2 separate regions of the Homo sapiens genome follow, and region 1 is linked to region 2. Evidence: fine-mapped expression QTL. Tissue or cell type: prefrontal cortex. Region 2 holds a variant in brackets; the other region holds the start of a gene. All regions are shown on one strand. Distances are from middle to middle.

Region 1 (10,589 bases), 61 kb before region 2:
CTATCATACACAAATCATAATGCATGCGCACGCTAAAAACCACCCCCACCAGCACCACGACAGTTTACAAATGCCATGGCAATATCTAGAAGTTACCCCGTATGGTCTGGACTGGGGACTCCTGGTTCCACAGAATCCCTGCCTCTTTTCCAGAAAACTCACGAATAATCCACCCCTTGTTTAACATATACTCAAGAAATGGCCATAAAATAGCCAGTTAGCAGGCCCGCCTGCTTCCCACCCTCCCCACTCCACTCTGCCTATGGGGTAGCCACCCTTTTATTCCCTCATTTTTAATAAACTTGCTTTCACTTTACTCTGTGGCTCATTCTTGAATTCTTTCCTGCATGAAGCCAAAAACCAACTTGGCTTCCAGGGCTGAGCCTCAATTTTGGTATTCACCTGCAACAGCTGTAGAAGATCCTTGAGTGGTCTGCCTGTAAACTCCAGACCTATCAAATTCCATACTCCAATACACCTAAATGCTTCATACAATCCATGGATATTATGAAGTAATAAACAGACTTATACTGATAATCATATTATTAACAGGCTTCTCCTTGGCATCAAATATGGACATGAGGGAAACTGAAGGACTTTTCCAGTTACCATCCTAACATCTGCATCTAACTGTGAAAGGGAATCCACTAGCACTGGCCATACCCTTTCCTTTGGGAATCTATGTTATTTCTTAGGCCCAAAATCTTTTTGGAAGACTTGTGTTTTTGGGAAGACAGAGTTACCCTTTTGAAAAATTGTGCAGACTACACTTTAGAATTCACTTCAAAGGGAAAAATTAGTTTTGCAAGGATGGTACCTAACCTGCAAAATAAAATTTAATAGTCCTGGTGCAAAACACTTCTCCACAGGGAAACATTATTAAACTGAAGCTGATTAACAGTATTATTGCTTCTCAAAATTTAAATGCATCTTAACAAGATTCTTTGTATGCACAATTCTGATTTAGTAGATTTAGGGTGAGGTCTGAGATTTTGCATTTCTAACAAGCTCCAGATGATGCTATTACTGCTAGTCTGGGGATTACCCTGAAGTGCAAGGTGATGGACAGTCATTAGAGAGACCAGGTAGAATTCAGAGGTTAGATACGGGACAGCAAACCGGGCACTGAGACTTCAGAGTCTCCCCAGAGTTTTGTTCTTTAAGATGCAATCCAGTCATCTTTTTTTTCAAATTAAAACGTAGGTTTAATGCAATTCCAACCAATATGCCAAAAGGATTATTTTGGAAACAGACTAAGTTATTTCAAGGTTATTCTAGAATAGGCAACAAGAAAGATGAATGTGGGAAGGGATGAAAGAGAATAGCAAGGGGAGTAAAATTATGTGATTAAGGAGGCATCAAGCATCATTAAGAAAGGAAATAATGGTGGAGAACTAGATATTTGGCAAAATGAACAGACAAAAACACCCAAAACAAAAAAGAAGCTAGGCTGGGTGCAGTGGCTCATGCCTGTAATCCCAGCACTTTGGGAGGCCGGGGCAGGTGGATCATGAGGTCAAGAGATCGAGACCAGCCTGGCCAACATGGTGAAACCCCATTTCTACTAAAAATACAAAAATAAAATTAGCCGGGTGTGGTGGTGTGTGCCTGTAATCCCAGCTACTCGGGCAGCTGAGGCAGCAGTATCGCTTGAATCCAGGAGCCAAGATCGCGCCACTGCACTCCAACCTGGCAACAGAGCAAGACTCCGTGTCAAAAAAAAAAAAAAGAAGCTAATTTAGATCCTTATCTAATAATATGTCTCTTCTCTGAATAAATTCTAGATGAATGAATCTAACACACCAAGAAAAACACAAAATCCCCACAAGAGAGAAGTGAATATTTAACAAACCTATGCCACTCCTCCCAATAAATTCTAGATGAATGAATCTAAAACACCAAGAAAAACACAAAACCCTCAGAAGAGAGAAGTGAATATTTAACAAACCCAGGGGTGAAGATTAAACTTAGAATTGGAAGAAACGAGGGAAAAAAAGTGATAGCTGACACTCTGTGTATGTGTATCCTCTGTATTTAAAAATAACACTAAAGGCCAACGAGGAAAATGTTTATGTTATGTCAAATTAATAGGAAAATAAGTACATCAAACCTAGTGCCTTCAAAAGACAACAGAACAGTGTGTTTAGAACTTCTGGGGTCCAGATCCCACCCCCTTTGCTTTTCCAAGTGAATACCTCTCCCCCGCAGTGGTTTACTCTCATCAACGTACATTCTAGTCTTTCACATTAAAATAAAAATAGCAAGAACCTGAGCCCCTCACCATGTCCTTCGTCAGCTACCAATCCAGTTCTCTATGAGATTGCTCATGATCACAGTAAAACTTCTCCGAAGTCTCCATCTCCACCTCCTCACCTCCCTTTCCTTTTCCACAGTACTTCAATCTGGCATCTCCCCACCACTCCATTCAAATGGCTCTCATCAAAACTCCAGTCTTCATCTCATGCCAGTTCTCAATCAGTGCCCAACACAGCCGCTCATCCCTACAAAACACTTCCTCCTTTGGCTTTCCTCCCTCCAGCCTCACTGGCTATTTTCTTCTTAGTTGCCTTTGTTGGTGTCTCCTGTATCAAAACTCCAAATCTGCACTATGCATAAGGTAGCCCACTAGTCAGGTCACTACAGAGTCCTTGAAACACGGTTAGTCTGTGAGATGTGCTGTAAAATTAAAATATCCATTCGACTTTGAAGATGAAGATTTTTTTGAAGACTTAGTATGTGTTCAAAGCATAGTGTTTTGCATAGACAGGGTTAAACAAAAGATATTAACTTCACCTGTTTCATTTTACGTTACTTTTAAGATGGCTAGAAAAAATGTAAGACTATATCTGTGGCTTGCATTAGATTTCTATTGGCTAGTGCTGTTCTAAATGTTGGCAGTGTCCTAGGGTTTGGTCTTGCTCCTCCTTAGCCTTGCCATCACAGTAAACAGTATCATTATCCATGCACTGGCTCATATTAGAGGCACCGAAAGTAGACAGTAGTATTTTCAGACAATGGGAGTGTCCACAGAGCAGGGTTCCCGGGGTTCCTGGACACTGGATTGCTTTGAGGAACTCAACTCTGCCCATTTATGGTTTTTAGTTTCTCCTCTGGAATGTACCTAAAGGAATTTAAGAAACCTCCATTTGGCTCTGTTGTTTTTCTCTTTTTTAAAGTCCACAGTTTGTAATGGTAAAGACTTAAGCAAGTTCCTGAACTCTTTCAGGCCCTAAAATTCATCATGTTTGAGGAGAATGCAAGCACTGTTTCTCTAAAGACGACTCATCTAACAAATATGCTGCCTCTGATCATGCCAGTTCCATCAATTCAACAGAGGGACTGAAATCTGGCACCAGGAGCTTTGCAACAAAATCTGTGCCACTTGTTAAAAGCGAAAGACTTGATTTCATCCATATCTTAAAAACAACAGGGTTTTAGAAAAGACATACATACAAGTCAAGATTCAATATTTAAACTTAAAACTCATGCAGTATCAAAACTACTAACCATTCTATAAGCACTCCTTTCAAGACGTTGACCATGTTTTCTCAGAAGGTTCAGATGACCTGAAGAATGCTAATAAAAAGAGTAAGGTAACATTAAATTAAAAATCATTAACTTTCATATACTTTGGGGATCTGCCTCTGAAACGAGGCAAAATAATTAAATGTCAATATTTAACAGTTAAGTCTATGAAAGACAGTTAACATTAAGAAAAAAGACATTCTGATTTTTTAACAAAATTAAAATGAGTCTACTTGGAATATTAATGCCACATCTTACTCGCCAGCCAATTCTACCCAAGGTCAATTAGCCCTAATAGAAGCAAGAGGCCTAACTCTACACCAGTGTGCCCAACCCAGGTATAAACCGTCCATTATTCAAAGGATTTCTTTTCCCATTCAGGAGAATGACAAAGGGTAAGATCCTGGGAGACAGGAATCAAAGAAGATAGTTCTGAAAGGTGCTTCAAAAATTATACAGTGAGCCCAACCACCTCCTTTTAGTTTATATTTTATTTTACTGAGACAGGGTCTGGCTCTGCCGCCCAGGCTGTAGTGCAGTGGCGCGATCTCTGCTCCCTGCAACCTCTTGCCTCCTGGGTTCAAGCGATCCTCCCACCTCAGCCTCCCGAGTAGCTGGGACTACAGGCATGCACTACTAAGCCCAGCTAATGTACTGTGTTGTATCGTGTGTGTGTGTGTGTATATATATACACACTTTTATATATAATATATAATATACAATATATAATATATAATATACAATATATTATATATAATATACAATATATTATATAATATATAATATACAATATATTATATAATATATAATATACAATATATTATATAATATATATTATATATTATATAATATACAATATATTATATGTAATATACAATATATGTAATATACAATATATTATATGTAATATACAATATATGTAATATACAATATATTATATATAATATACAATATATTATATATAATATACAGTATATTATATATAATATACTGTATATTATATATAATATACAATATATTATATAATATACAATATATTATATATAATATACAATATAATATATATAATATATAATATATATAATATACAATATATTATATATAATATATAATATACAATATAATATTATATATAATATATAATATACATATTATATATATGTATTATATATAATATACGTATTATATATAATATACATAATATACATATTATATATTATATATAAAATAAATATATATTATATATAAAATACATATATAATATATATATATGTATATATACACTTCGAGACAGAGTCTCACTCTGTCGCCCAGGCTGGAGCGCAGTGTCGTGATGTCGGCTCACTGCAACCTCTGCCTCCCGGGCTCAAGCGATTCTCCTGCCTCAGCCTCCCAAGCAGCGGGGACTACAGGCGCCCGCCACCACGCCAGGCCAAATTTTGTATTTTTAGTAGAGGCAGGGTTTCACCATGTTGGCCAGGCTGGTCTCGAACTCCTGATCTCAAATGATCCACCTACCTCGGCCTCCCAAAGTGCTGGGACAACAGGTGTGAGCCACCGCGCCAGGCCAATTTATTGTATTTTTAGTGGAGACGGGGTTTCACCATGTTGGCCAGGCTGGTCTCGAACTCCTGGCCTCAAGTGATTTGCCCGCCTCGGCCTCCCAATGTGCTGGGATTGCAGGCGTGAGCCACCGCGCCCGGCCTCAGCCACCTCATTTTACATATGAGGAGACCAAAGGAAGAGATTAAGCCGTAGTTCCTGGCCAAAGGAAAAAAGTACAAGCCAGATCTCCAGATCTTGTGCCCCTTCACTAAATAAATCACGTCCCGTGCGGACCTAGGCTGGAAACAAACCACTCAGCGTACGCCCATTTAATTAACTTCCACTTACACCTGGGCGCAGGGCGAGCCCTAGCCCCACAGGAAACCCACGATTAAACGAGGGGGGGACTGCCGTGCGGCCCCGCCAGGAAGGGCCCGGAGAGAGTGGGGGACACCGCCCTGTGCCCCCAGCACCCGGTGGACAGGCTTCTGGGGCTTTTCTCTTCCTCTCCCCTTTCTTTGGGACCCCTCAGTGTTCCCACACCCCACTTTCCCCAGCCGCTCGGACGCTCGCCACACACCTCGGCCCACAGATGCAGAAGCGCCTCGGCGTTGCCGGCAGAGTGCGCCTGCGCCGATACGCCATCGCGCTAGGGACGCTATTGTGGGTGGAGCCAGCCGGCGGGAGGCGGGCCCAGAGCGGGCCGAGGGGGCGGGGTCACGAGCCGCCAGCCGCCGGGTGGAGGGTCCCGGCCGGGAGCCGCGGAAAGAGTAGGGCTCCCCAGACAACGGGGTCCGACGAGCAGTTGGGCACGGGCTGAGTCCGCCTGCCGGCAGGTAGGACGTGAAGGCAGGGGTGGTGTGGGGGCGGACGGGGGCGTCGGCGCAGCTGGGCGCGGTGGGGAGCGGAGAATGGGGAGGGCAGGGACCGGGCACGGCCGAGCACCGCCGTCTGGCGCGCGGACCGGACCGACCAGCTGACGCTCGGCTGGGCGTGAGGGCCTCTCTCTCTGGTGGTCGCGAGCCTGACTCGTCTTTCCCTGTCGCTGCCTTTCTCTGGCTGCTGTCGAGGCCTTGGGGAGTGCACCTGCCGGTCCGTCTTCCCGGGCTCGGTAGTCACGGAGAGATGAGGAGGAGGAGGAAAGGGCCTCACCAGTCACTTCTGAGCCTTGCAGACCACCGCTTCCTGCTCCCTCTCTAACCCCAGAGATGGAATAGATTGAATGCTGAGAGAGCTCTAAACTCGGCAACGGTCATTTTAAAGTGAAAGACCCCAGAAGGTTCTAAAGTTACTCCCTTTCCCCAAGTCTGTTCTGTAAGTCTAAAGGAACACTGTCATTATTTTTACTAGTTGAGATATGAGATTCTTGTTTTCTGTTCCTTAGGTTAAATTGTACTTCCCGCATTAAGCTCATGCTGCCTTTTTTTTTTTTTTTTTTGAGATGGAGTCTCGGTCTGTCTGCCAGGCTGGAGTGCAGTGGCGCGATCTGGGCTCACTGCAACCTCCGTCTCCTGGGTTCAAGCAATTATCCTGCCTCATTCTCCCTAGTAACTGGGATTACAGGCGTGCGCTACCACGCCCGGCTGATTTTCGTATTTTTAGTAGACACGGGGTTTGTCCATGTTGGCCAGGCTGGTCTGGAATTCCTGACATCAGGTGATCCCCCGCCTCGGCCTCCCAGAGTGCTGCGATTACAGGTGTGAGCCACCGCGCCCGACCTCATGCTGCCTTTTTTTTTTTTTTTTTTTTTTTAACATCGTGTGTGTTCATGTGATCGCTAAGGAACCCAGCTCTTCCATTTAGTTCCCTCTTTCTATCCCTCAAATCTTTTCCAACTGGTGATTTCCATATTGTTGCACTCTCTTTAAAATAAAAAAATTGCCTCCAAGTCTTCTTCTTCCCAAGTATCTTTTATTTGCTTTTTTTCATCTTGCATACATTCTCTTCCTTGATCTCATCAGTTCCATTTTTGTGCACTTGATGTGTGTCAGCTATTATTCTAGACGCTTGGGATACAATGGTGAACAGGTAACTAATTTTGGTGGGGGCAGAGAGACTCTGAAATCAGTTAAGGAATAAGTACCATTTGGTGATGTGATAAAGAGTGACTAGAGGGGTTATTTTGGCCAGGGGGATGTCAGAAATGGCCTTAATTTCTGCATTTAAAAACTTCTGTATACCAGTAACAATTAACTAGGAGTTTTAATAATAAAAAGACACTATTCATAATGGCATTCAAAACTAAAGGTACCTAGAAATAGATGAACCTAAAGCTGTGTAGTCCTTTAGACAGAAAATTGTAAGGCTCTGTTGGAACACAAAAGATGACCCAAGTAAATGGTGAGATATACCGTATTAATAGATGGAAAGACTCAACAAAAAGATGTCAGTTTTCCTCAGTTCTACGAATTCAGTGTAATGCCAATTAAAATCACCATATTGTTTTATGGAATTTGCCATGCTGAACTTAAAATTTATATGGAAAGGCAAGGGACCAAGAATAGTGAAGTCAATTTTGAAGAAGAAGAAAAATAAGGTCTCTCCCTATCAGATACCAAAGCTTAATATAAAGTTGTAATTATTAAGATGGTATGATATTGATTCAGGGATAGAGAATTAGATTCATGGAACAGAATAGAGACACTAGAAACATACCTATTTACATACGGGAGTTTAGTATACCACTAAGTGGTATTGCAAAGCAGGGGGAAAGCATAGACTATTCAATAAAGGATGATGAAATATATGGTTGCTGAGATATCTGGCATTGTTATGGTATACAGACAGGATTAGATTCTTACTTTCAAACTATTGACAACAGTTTCCAGATAAAGACCTAAATGTGAATGGCACAGCTGCAAGGTATTTGGAAAGGAATATAAGAGACCATTGTCTCTAGGAAAGATTTCTTTTTTGTTTGCTTTGTTAAATCTTGTTACACATAAGATTTATCATGTTAACCATGTTGAGTTGTTGAGTTCAGTGACATTCACATTGTGCAACCAGCACTACTATCTATCTCCAGAACTTTTTTTTTAAATGTCTCTGAGAAGGATTTCTTAAGTTACAAAAAGCACCTTTGAGGTGTCATTTTATTACTCCAAATGAGAGATGATGTTGGCTTGAACTAGACAAGAGTGTAGCAGTGAATACAGAGAAAAATGGATGGATTTGGGGGTATGTTTTGATGGTAGAGAAGAGCAACTCTGCGTGGTTTAGATGTAGAGTAAGGGGAAAACAAGGAATCAAGGGCAACATCTGTTTTTTTGCTTCAGTTAAGAGGTAGATCATTTACCATTTACAATCAAAAAGCATTGACCATTTGATGGATAGTGATGGAGAAGATTTGTGGAGGAAGAGTTTGGGGAGAAAAAGTAAAGAATTCTCTTTTGGACAGTTGAGTATGAAAGGCCTGTTGGACATCCAAGTGGAAATGTTCCAATAGCTGTTGGATAGATAGGTCAGGAAAGATCGTAGCTAGAGGTACTCTGAGATCACTGGCATATAGATATTAAGAACTGGGCCGGGCACGGTGGCTCACGCTTGTAATCCCAGCACTTTGGTAGGCCGAGGCGGGTGGATCACGAGGTCAGGAGATTGAGACCATCCTGGATAACACGGTGAAACCCCGTCTGTACTAAAAATACAAAAAAATAGCTGGGCGTGGTGGCAGCCGCCTGTAGTCCCAGCTACTTGGGAGGCTGAGGCAGGAGAATGGTGTGAACCTGGGAGACGGAGTTTGCAGTGAGCCGAGATCGCGCCACTGCACTCCAGCCTGGGTGACAGAGTGAGAGACTCTGTCTCAAAAAAAAAACCAAAAAACAAAAAACTGTGGTGTGTTGGAATCAGCTGTGTTACACAGAAAACAAGATAATACTGGCTTAAATATGTATGTAATTGCATAGGTAGGCAGCCATGCTTTTATGGAAGCAGCTCTGTAATCATCAGGGACTCGGATTCTTCTATCTGGCTGCTCTACCGTCCTTAATAAGATGCTTGGTGTTAAGATGACTGCTTTAATTCAAACTGTCAGTTGCTCATTCTAGCAAGAGGGAGGAGGGAAGGAGGAAGAAAGGCACATACCCTTCTTTTTAAGGACACTTTTCAGAAATTGCACATGACACATCCACTCATATTTCATTAGCCAATTCTTTGTAAGTGCCCATAGTTAACTAGAAAGAAAGAAAGGTGATGTAGTCTTTTTTGTTGTCTGTGTACCTAGCTACAACTCACGTTTTATTAATCAGAATGAAAGCATGAAATGATGTTTCACTCTGGCTTCCTCCACCAGGGCAATGAAGCTACTGATATGAAGATCCCAGTGACCTCCATATTGTTAAACTTAATGGAATTTTCAAATATTTGTTTTATTTTTAAATTATAATCTCTTCCCTTTTATTTTCTGTGTCTTTCTTAGTCTCAAAATTTCTCCGTTCTCTACTTAAAATCAGTGTTTCAGATTTTATGTAATCACCGTCATAATATATATATATATTTTTTTGAGATGGAGTCTCGCTCTGTCGCCCAGGCTGGACTGCCGTGGCGCAATCTTTGCTCACTGCAAGCTGCACCTCCTAGTTTCACGCCATTCTCCTGCCTCAGCCTCCTGAGTAGCTGGGACTACAGGTGCCCGCCACCACACCCAGCTAATTTTTTGAATTTTTAGTAGAGATGGGGTTTCACCGGGTTATCCAGGCTGGTCTCGATCTCCTGACCTCGTGATCCTCCTGCCTCGGCCTCCCAAAGTGCTGGGATTACAGGCGTGAGCCACCGTGCCTGGCCCCATAATCTTAAAGGTGCTTTTAAATAGAAATTGACAAGCAGACTCTAAAATTATGTGGAAGTACCAAGGACCTAGAATAGTCCGTCTTGAAAAGGAAGGACACAGCTGGAAAATTTATACTACTAGCTTCAAGACTTACTTTAAAAACTACAGTAATCTGCCTGGTGCGGTGGCTCACACCTGTAATCCCAGCACTTTGGGAAGCCGAGGCGGGTGGATCACGAGGTCAAGAGTTCAAGACCAGCCTGGCCAAGATGGTGAAACCCTGTCTCTACCCAAAATACAAAAATTAGCCAGGTATGGTGGTGGGCATCTGTAATCCCAGCTACTTGGGAGGCTGAGGCAGGAGAATTGCTTGAACCTGGGAGGCGGAGGTTGCAGTGAGCTGAGATCAGGCCACTGCACTCCATCCTGCCTGGGCGACAGAGTGAGACTCTGTCAAAAAGAAAACAAAAAACAACAAAAAACCTACATAATCTAAACAGTGCAGTGTTTATATAAGGATAGATAAATAGATCGATGGAGTGGAATAGGTCCATACATATGTATTCCATTAGGGTTTTTTGTTTGTTTGTTTTGAGATGTGGGTCTCACTGTATTGCCTAGGCTGGTGTTGGGCTCCTGAGCTCCAGCAGTCCTCCTGCCTCAGGCTTCTGAGTAGCTGGTATTACAGGCATGTGCCGCAGATATAGTCAGTTGATTTGTGGTCTCAAGCAATCATCCCACCTTGGCCTCC
Region 2 (10,589 bases):
GTCTTCAGCTTGCCTGTTATCTCTGGGAACCCCTTTCTTACTGCCTCTGAGGCTGGCTTAGGTGCTGTTCTGGTGGTAGCCAGCCACATTGTGGGTCCTTCAGGCTAGGGACAGCATGCATCTGGAGTGCTTGCCAGATGGTTCTTTTGTCTACATAATGAGTTTTGTCCTAATTTCATTATATGCTATCTACATAAAATGAAAAATGTCATACTGTGTAGTAGAACTGAAAAATTTTACCTTAAAGTAATATGCTGTAGGTTGAGGAGTTACTATTTAGTAGTTGAAGAACTTGAAGAGTTCCAAAGAACAGCTGCCAGATGTTTTTAAAAAGGACTTTGGAAGCTTGAAGCAACAGCATAGTTTTTTGTTTTTGTTTTTAAGAGACAGGGTCTCACTTTGTCATCCAGGCTGGAGTTCAGTGGTATAATCATAGCTCATTGCAGCCTCGAACTCCTGGGCTCAAGCGTTCCTCCCACTTCAGCCTCCTGAGTAGCTGGGACCACAGGCGCACACCACCACACCTGTCTAAATTTTTAAATTTTTTGTATAAATGGGGTCTTGCTGTGTTGCCCAGGCTGGTCTCAAATTCCTGGCCTCAAGCAGTCCTCCTGCGTTGGCCTCCCAAAGTGCTGGGATTACTGGTGTGAGCCACTGTGCCTCGCCCAAAAGCAAAGTTAATATCATGGACCAGCTGCTTGGAGTGGCATAGCCTTGCCCTAATTCTGTCACCAAGAGGCTTTTCTTCCTTCATAACCACCACCTGCATTCCTCACCTAGGTGGCCTCACTAGTACCTCTTATCACTTCCGTGCGAGGGGACTTTGTTAGACCGAAATATCTCAAGCACTAAATCATTTTTACCCTGAAAGTGATTATTGGGATTTAGGTATAGAATGGATCCCATGTGAGACATTCCCATTCATTTCACCAGGAGAAAGGAAGTTTATAATAGAAACTCTGAAGTAACTTAGCAATAACCTGCAGGTGTAAGAAGGTTTTGAATATGTTAGTGCTCAATCTCTGCTTGCTCTGAAATAAGGAAGTAGGCCAGAACACATACGAAAAGTTCATGGAAAGCATAAAACTATGGTTCTACTGACTGAGAATCCCTTCCTGCATGTTTCATCAAATGTAGTTTAGCTGCAATCAAACTTCAGGTTCCTTTATCTTTTAAGAGTCCCTTGTCACAACCAAAGCAATGTCTAGAACTACCCATTCGGCCTCTTTCAGTATTGTCAAGGGGAAAGCTTATATTTTTACTTAGGTTTATTGACTTTTTTATTTTCTTCAGATTTAGGCATTGGAGATCTAATTCCTGTGGATGTTAACCATTTGAACATTTGTAAGCCAAAGAAAAAGGATGCTTTTTTGTACCAGCGTACTTTACAATTCATTCGTGAAGCTTTAGCCAAAGACCTTGAAAACTAACAGTTGTGCTCTTCCAGTTTTCATATGTGAATTCAGTGCAAGAAACTTGGTGTTCTGTTTCTTCTTTTAAGCTCTATGCAATCATGCAAACATAGTGATCATAGCGTCAACATGGTCTGGAGTGTGTTGCAGACTACAGAACATTGTTCTCCCTTCAAGCGCTGTAAAGCACCAACCCGGAAGTGGCAGGCACAGAAGGAAGGGCTGGATTGGGCCCCTTTGGTGTAAAGAAGTCCCTGTGTGCTGCTTTATGGTTCGCAGTGTTGGGCTTGGTGACTGGAGCAAAGCTGCTGTGAGAGAGTGTCCTTTCCCATCTGTGACTTTCCTGGTGCATCCAGGAGGGGCACGGCAGGTTCTGAGGTAACTCAACTTACCATAAAAATGCCATTAAGAGAGTACCTAAAATGGAGAGAAGAATGAACTAGAACATTCAAGACTCTTTTACTTCTGGGTATTGATTTGCTGTACATTTTTAAAGTTTGAGTTTTTAGCTCAGTTCTACCTTTTATCTGACACATTATTACTAGTGTTAACTTTGTTAGACTTATTGTCATGTCTGGGTCAGTTCCTTGTATCTATTTTCGTATTCCTGAGAACAAATCTTTTTCTTAGAAAAATTCTAGCTTATAATAATTCTTTTCAGACTGTAGCTGCCTATGCTTGGAATTTGTCCTAGATAAGGATAAAGTAGCTAATCCATTATTGATCACAGTATGAAGTAAAACTATTCTAAGCCATTATATGAATTAGCAATTCTTAGTATCAAGATTCTCAGATTCTCTTTGGCTAAATAAACCTTTCTTCTTCCTTGCTCATTTGCAAGTGGTATTAATTGACCTCTATAGCATGTGAGTAGTAGATAATCATGTCGATGACCTTTTTTTCTTTAGAGTAACAGCATTATTGAGATATAATTTACATACCATAAGATTCACCCTTTTAAATTATACAATTCATTTTTGTTTTGTTTTGTTTGTTTAGAGACAGGGTCTGACTCTGTTGCCCAAGCTGGAGTGCAGTGGCATGATCATAGCTCATTGTAACCTCAAACTCCTGGGCTCAAGAGATCCTTTTGCTTCAGCCTCCCAAGCAGCTAGGACTACAGGCACATGCCACCACACTTGGGTAATTAAAAAATAAATAAATACTTTTTTGTAGAGACAGGGTCTCACTGTGTTGCCCAGGTCTCAAACTCCCGATCTCAAGCCACCCTCCCAAAATGCTGTGATTATAGGCCAGAGCCATTGTTCCCAGGCTCAATTCATTGGTTTTTAGTATAGTTCACTGAGTTGTGCAACATCATTGCTATTTAATTTCAGGCTATTTCATCATCCCCAAAAGAACCCCATACCCATGAGCAGTCAGTTCCCACCTCTGCTTTCCCAAGCCTGCGGTAAACACTAATCTGTTTTCTGTCTCTATGGATTTGGGAATTTTATGTAAATGGAATCATACAATATGTGGCCCTCTCTGCCTTCTTCCTTCTATTAGCATGTTTTCAAGGTTCATTCATGATATAGCATGTATCAGTACTACTTCATTTCTTTTTATGGCCGAAATTACTCCATTGTATGATATGCCATGTTTCTTTATCCATTCATCAGCTGATGGACATCTAGGTTCTGTTCATTTTTGTCTATGATAAATAATGCTACCATGATCATTTGTGTACAAATTTATGTGTGGATAGATGTTTTTGATTCTCTTGGGTGGAATTGCTGGTCAAATGGTAAGTCTATGTTTAAATTTTGAAGATGGTGAACTTTTGTAGAATGAGATAGTCGAAGCTAAAACTGGAGTATGGCATCTGAAGGTAAATGGCTCATCAATAAACTCGATATCAACAATTAATTGTTTCATTGTACAACAACCTAGCAAAACCCACTTATTTATTGCTGTAGTAGACATAGCAAATATGACAGTTGCTAACAACGAATGTACTACCCAATGTGATAACATGGGGAGAAGGGGTAGATATGTTTAGTACATTTTTTCTCTTTTTTTTTTTTTTTGTTTTTGAGATAGAGTCTCGCTCTGTCACCAGGCTGGAGTGCAGTGGCACGATCTCGGCTCACTGCAACCTCCACCTCCCCAGGTTCAAGCGATTCTCCTGCCTCAGCCTCCTGAGTAGCTGGGAATACAGCCACGCGCCACCATGCCCAGCTAATTTTTGTATTTTTAGTAGAAACGGGGTTTCACCATGTTGGCCAGGACGGTCTCGATCTCTGGACCTTGTGATCTGCCCGCCTCGGCCTCCCATAGTGCTGGGATTACAGGCGTGAGCCACCACACCTGGCCCTGTTTAGTAAATTTTCTTGTTCTGCTTTCTGTGAACCATGGCAGATAAACCACAGTTGAAACAACTGTTCATTAATTCAGAGTATGGAATGGAAACCCTGTTTCTTAAATTTTTAATAGAATACAGCCGTGCTTTAAAAATAAGATGTGGAAGAGATATCCAATGTATTCTTAACTAAATTAGAATAGTCTGGATAAAATTTATTATACACAAGCAAGATTAAAAGAAATGGTATAGCACATAAGCAACACAGTAAAGCAAAATAAACAAGTACAGATGGTCCCCAGCTTAACGATGGTTCAACTCACAATTTTTTGAGTTCACAATGGGTTTATCAGATTGTTAAATGCATTTTTGACTTACAATGGGTTTATGCGGTTGCAGCCCCATCGTAAATCAAGGAGCATCTGTATAAAATGATGGCTGAAGGTGCAATTCTAAAAGAAAATATAATCCCTGAACAACAAAAAAGTGATGAAGGAAAAGGTGGAAAGCACTTGAAAATCAAATCAGCACAATTACAGAAGTAGAAACAGCACATTAAAGAATAGAAATGGGGCTGGGTGTGGTGGCTCACGCCTGTAATCCCAGCACTTTGGGAGGCGAAGGTGGGTGGATCACAAGGTCAGGAGATCGAGACCATCCTGACCAACGTGTTGAAACTCCGTCTCTACTAAAATACAAAAAAAAAAAAAAAAAAAAAA[AT/T]TAGGTGTGGTGGCACGCACCTGTAATCCCAGCTACTCAGGAGGCTGAGGCAGGGGAATTGCTTGACTCCAGGAGGCGGAGGTTGCAGTGAGCTGAGATCTCGCCACTGCACTCCAGCCTGGGCGACAGAGCAAGACTTCGTCTCAAAAAAAAAAAAAGAAATGGATGAAAATTCTATCAATAGAGAGGTGGCTGGATGGATATGGAACCACAATAGATGCAGAAGCAAAATAAAATAATTAGAAGATAATAGATAAGCTGTTCAATTGTAAAGGCAATAGACAGACAGGCATTGTCAACATCACCTCAAGGAATAGGGACCTATGTGCCTTTCCTGACAAATTTGCTTGTTAATTCAATCCAGACATTTAAAAAAAAGGGAATAAAAATAGCACACTTTAAAATGCAAACAAAAACCCTAAAAACAAAAACACTTATGTTAGAAAACAATAATGTTGGAGAGAAAGAATTGTGTGCTCAGCTAAGTTGCCCTTGAAATGGGTACAAAGGTAATGGACCAGCATGCTCAAGCCTGCAAGAATTGGGGAATACTGTGCAGTTCTAGTTTTACCTTCTTAGCCTAAGGTAAGTTTATTAGATAATGACATATAGTATGCCATCATACTATATGTCATTAATATTAAACATAATTTACAAACCATATGACATATAGCATACTATCTAAATATTAAACATTAAAAATATATGTATTCTAGAATATATATTTAATAACCTATATTTAATAAACATGTTTTATATATTCTAGAAATCTATGTGTATATGTATAGTAAAATGCCAGACACTATAATACACATAGAAAGATTTCTAAAGTAATGTTTATGATTACTTCTGGGTAGATTTTGGGTTAACTTTTCATATTTTAATGCTTAATTTTATGAGTATTTGTTACTTTTTTCTTTTCTTTTCTTTTTTTTTTTTTTTTTTTGAGACAGAGTCTCACTCTTGCCCAAGCTGGAGTGCAATGGCGCGATCTCGGCTTGCTGCAACCTCCGCCTCCTGGGTACAAGCGATTCTCCTGCTTCAGCCTCCCAAGTAGCTGGGATTAAAGGCACCTACCACCCACACCCGGCTAATTTTTGTATTTTTAGTAGAGATGGGAGTTTCACTGTGTTGGCCAGGCTGGTCTCAAATTCCTGACCTCAAGTGATCCACCCACCTCCGTTTCCAAAAGTGCTGGGATTACAGGCGTGAGCCACTGCACCCAGCTGAGTATTTGTTACTTTGATACACAATTTATTTTAAAAAGAAAGCTCTGTAAAAGTCAAAATCCAAATCATAGCCACTGTGCTCACTGGTCAAGTTATTGCAACATAAGATGGAATATTAGTGAAAAAGGAATCTTAAAAAATAATAACAGGCTTCTGCTTTCAGTAATAGCAGGATAGATCATTTGGATCTAATCTCCCAGTGAGGACAATTAAAGAATCTAGACGAAATGTTTTTAATTGATCAAAGAGCTACAAAGAAAATAATAATGATTTATTGGCAAAAATAAATTATTATTATTATTATGAGACAGAGTCTTGCTCTGTCGCCCAGGCTGGAGTGTGCAATCTCGGCTCACTGCAACCTCCGTCTTCCGGGTTCAAGCAATTCTCCTGCCTCAGCCTCCCAAGTAGCTGGGATGACAGGCATGTGTTACCATGCCCAGCTGATTTTTGTATTTTTAGTAGAGGCAGGTTTTCACCATATTGGTCAGGCTGGTCTCGAACTCCTGACCTCAGGTGATCCCACCACATCGGCCTCCCAAAGTGCTGGGATTATAGGCGTGAGCCACCATACCTGGCCCACTATTTTATCTATAGAAATAGCATCCAGGAGGCCGGGCGTGGTGGCTCATTCCACAGACTGAAGAAGTTAATCCAAAGCAGAGCATATAAAAATAAATCTGCATCTATACAGAGAATAGGGACACTGCAGAAAAGCCAAGACAAGAGGAAGATCTTAAAAGTAGTTAGAGAAAAATGTGTAAAGAACAACAGTTAAAATTGCTGCTGTTGAGAAGTCCTAAGTCAATGGAAGCCAGAAGACACTGGAATGATATTGTCAATGTGCTAAAAGAAAACCACTTGCAATCTAGAATTATACATCCAGTACAAATCATAAACACTTAAAATATTAAGATGAAATGGACATTTTATATAAAGAAAAAGAGTTTACTGCCAGCAGACCTTCATTAATGGAAGGCAGAAGGCAAGTGATCCAGCCAGAGGCACTGGAATTCAAGAAAGAATGTGGAGTGAAAAAAGAGGTAACTACTAGGATAAATTAAATAAAAATTTTATAAAACATAATATATCAAGTGGGTGTTAAAATATGTAAAATTAAAATACACAGCAACTATAGCATATAAGTTGGGGGTGGGTAAATGGAGTTAAGTGCTCCAAGGTTGTTGTGTTATTTAGGAGGAAGGTAAAACAATGATTATCACTAGACTTTGAGAATTTAATGATACGTATTTTGTTTCTAAGATAACCAATAATAGACAAAAAATAGTGTATATAATGAATTCCAAACTAGGAGAGAAGAAAAAGGGGAATAAAAAAAAAAAATCTTAAGGCACAAACAGAGGGGAAAAGAAATAAGGAACAGATGGTACTAAGAGAAAGCACAAAATGGCATGGCAAGTGAAAACCCAAATATAGTAATAATTGCATTAAATGTAAATGAGCTAAATGCCCCAGTTAAAAGATAGTGTGTCAGACTGGATAAGAAATAACACCCTACTATATGTGTTTATAAGAGACCCACCTGACACAATCAAGTGAAAAAAGAGGCACAAGTTGCCAATGTTAGGAAGGAAGAGGAAATATCACTACAATGCACACATTACAAGATAAGAGGATATTAATAGATACTTTCAGGCCAATACTACTCAATTTTTAATAGAAAACTCCAAGGAAAATACAGCTTACCCAAGTTGCCTATGAAATAGAAAACTTTTATAGTCCTATTCCTATAAAAGGAATAGAATAAGTGGTTTTAAAATCTCACAAACTATAGGCCCAAGTGAATTCAATGTACTGTTCCTTACTGGTCAGGAAGGACTAGCCATATTTATGACTTCGAGATTATCAGTATATTCTTACTGCTGAAAATCATCAGAGAACATTTATGACCTATATTTCATGTATTAAAATTAGCTTAGAACAAACCTAGACAGAACTTGACTGGTGAGTGCTACCGAAAGTTTAAGGAGGAAATAGTTCCAATGTTATCAAGTTTTCCCAGTTAATAGAAAAAGAGTGTAGTCCCCAGCTCATTTTATGAGGTTAACAAAACTCTGATACCAAAACCATTCAAGGACAGTATAAAAAAGGGACAGTTACAAGCCGTTCTCATGGATGTAGCTGCAAAAATCCCAAGCAAAAATATTGACAAATTAAAGCCAGCAATATTTAAGGGGGTAAAATAATCTCCCCAAGTTGGAGTTACGCAATGAATGAATGCAAGGTTTGCTTAGCACTGAAAAATTGATCAATGTAATTCCCCAAATTAAACAAAAGGAAAAATCATAATCATTGCAATACACACAAAATATCTGATAAAATTCAACCACTATTCATGCAAAAGATAAACTTAGCAAGCCAGGAAGAGAATTTTGTCAATAAAGGATATTAAAAGAAAAAAACAACAACAGTAAACATCATACTTAGTGGTAAAAATATTAACATCTTCCCTCTGAGAACAGGAATAACACAAGAATGCCTACCAGCAGCATTTTAAACATCGTCCTAAATGTCCTAGCCAACTCTGTAAGGCAAGAAAAAGACACAAAGATACAAGGATGAGAAAGGAATAAACAAAATTCATTGTTTGCTAATATGATTATTTACATAGAAAATCCAAAAAAACCACAGATACCATGTTTTATCAATTCCAAGACACATTTCACAATATTTGAACATCTCTGTAATTGGGCTGCATCTCACAATAGCTACTGAGTCTTAGTTGGAAGCCGTCTTAAGAATGATGGTACATAAATGGTGTGTCTGATAATTGATGGTATACTAGGTGTATCAAAATACAGTAAATTGTTAGAATTTTGAGAGTTTGGCAAGGTTGCTGATGCATTCAATATAAAAAGTCTGTAAGTATACTAGTAAAAAATAGCAAATGAATTTTAAAATAAGTATTGTCTGTTAGATATAATAATGACATTAAGGTTATGAAAGAAAATGTTGGAGATACACGTTGAAAGTACCGAGGAATCAAGTATGATAGCAGAATTGCTTTGAAATATTTCAGCAAAGGAAAAATATATAAAGCAAATATAGCAAAGGGTTATTACTGTTAAATCCCAGGTGACAGATATGCGAGGGTCCAGGCTATTCCCTCTGATTTAATGTATGTCTGAAACTTTTTACAAGTTAAAAACTAAGAAACATCAAGGAAAACCTTAAATGAAGAGATGTGATGGGTTCTTGGACTGAAGACTCAATACCGTAAAGCTGTCTATTCTATTCCATGCAATCCCAAAAATTGCAACAGGTTTTTAAAAAATGAAACTTCAATTGATTTTAAAATTGATCTAAAAATACAAAGACTCAAAAATAGCCAAGATACTCTTAAAGAAAAAGAATATGGTGAGAGTGCTTATCAGATAACAAAGTTAAATGAAATAAGGCAACGTTGTATTGGCACACGGATAGACAAGCAGGCCAATGCTACAGAACACGGAGAGCCCAGAAGGTCTACATTCTGGAACAGCTGTATGAGCTGCTCAGGGAAACCTCTCCCACAGAAAGACATCTATTAAACTGGTCAAAATTAGCAAAAGCCATCATTCAATGTCTCTAGAGATTGACCAAAAGGCTGACAACAAATCGTGAAACATTTATTCAGCAAGATCTAAGGAATCTTGGTAGGAGCAAGGCGAAGGCATCACTTTGGAACTAGAACTAGAGCCTTCACCATCCCCCACAGATCTGCCTTGCACAAAGACCTGTTCCAGCAGGTAGAGTGTAATTGACAGCAAATCAATTTCTCTCTCTCTCTCTCTCACACACACACACACAATTTTGTACCCTATGACTAAAAAAAAAAAATTATATTGATGAAACCACTTTGCAAATCAATCCTCCACATGGCCACATCGAACGTTAACACATTTTTAAAAGTAGATGGTTTTCTAGGTCATAGTCTCAGGTCACAGGCCAATAAAATTAGGGCTAAGTAATTTAAAATGCCAAAAAAAAAAAAAACAAAAAACCCAAAATCAAAAATAAAAACAAAAAACCCTTAACTATTTGGAAATTATACAGTCTCCTAAATAACCAATGGATCAAAGAGAACGCAACGACAAATTACAATCTAGCAATTAATGACAAGGAGGAAATTTCATTCCAAAATGTATAGGGTGCAGTTAAAGCTAAAATCAAGGGAAAATGTATAACTTTAATTAAATATCTTTATTATTAACTATGAAAGACCAAAAATGAAAACCCAGTTCTACTATTAAGATTAGGAAAAGAACAAAAGTAAAAGTACAAAACAGATCCAAGTTAAAGTTAAAAATTAATGAAAGATGTTTAAAAATACAAAGAAAAAATATATTTTTAGACAGTCTCACTCTGTCACCCAGGATGGAGTGCAGTGGCACAATCTTGGCTCACTGCAGCCTCCACCTCCTGGGTTCAAGCGATTCTTGTACCTCAGCCTCCCAAGTAGCTGGGATTACAGGCATGCACCACCATGCCTGGCTAATTTTTGTATTTGTAGTAGAGAATGGTTTTTCCCATATTTGGCCAGGCTGATCTTGAACTCCTGACCTCAAGTGATCTGCCTGCCTCGGCCTCCCAAAGTACTAAGATTACAGGTCTGAACCACTGCACTGTAGTCCCAGCACTTTGGGAGGCCAAGGGGGGAGGATTGCTCGAGGCCAGGAGTTCGAGACCAGCCTGGGCAACATGGTGAAACCCTGTCTCTACAAAAAATACAAAAAACTAGCCAGGCATGGTGGCAAGCCCCTATAGTTTCAGCTACTTGGGACCTGAGGTGGGAGTATTGCTTGAGCCCAGGAGGTCAAGGCTACAGTGAGCTATGATCATGCCACTGCACTCCAGCCTGGGTGACAGAGTGAGATCCTGTCTCTAAAAAGAAAAGAAAACAATAGAAAGGATATATAAATCCCA

What was found. PIP is the estimated chance that this variant, and not a neighbour inherited with it, causes the effect.
Region 1: it holds the start of SERAC1, and the variant in region 2 is fine-mapped to the expression of SERAC1 in prefrontal cortex (BrainSeq, PIP 0.94).

What each region holds. Positions count from the first base shown.
Region 1 is chr6:158,163,457-158,174,045 of GRCh38, reverse strand. SERAC1 (serine active site containing 1) reads left to right here and starts at 5,784. Exons shown (of 17, transcript NM_032861.4): 1 at 5,784-5,906. It overlaps GTF2H5 (general transcription factor IIH subunit 5), which reads right to left and starts at 5,696. Exons shown (of 3, transcript NM_207118.3): 1 at 5,651-5,696; 2 at 3,508-3,576. The coding sequence starts at 3,542. RefSeq lists silencers at 5,697-5,876, 5,917-5,986.
Region 2 is chr6:158,102,207-158,112,795 of GRCh38, reverse strand. SERAC1 (serine active site containing 1) reads left to right here. Exons shown (of 17, transcript NM_032861.4): 17 at 1,294-3,277. The coding sequence ends at 1,430. Among named protein-coding and RNA genes, the nearest start is that of SERAC1, 61 kb to the left of the region's middle. The variant AT/T (reference allele first, on the strand shown) is at 4,434.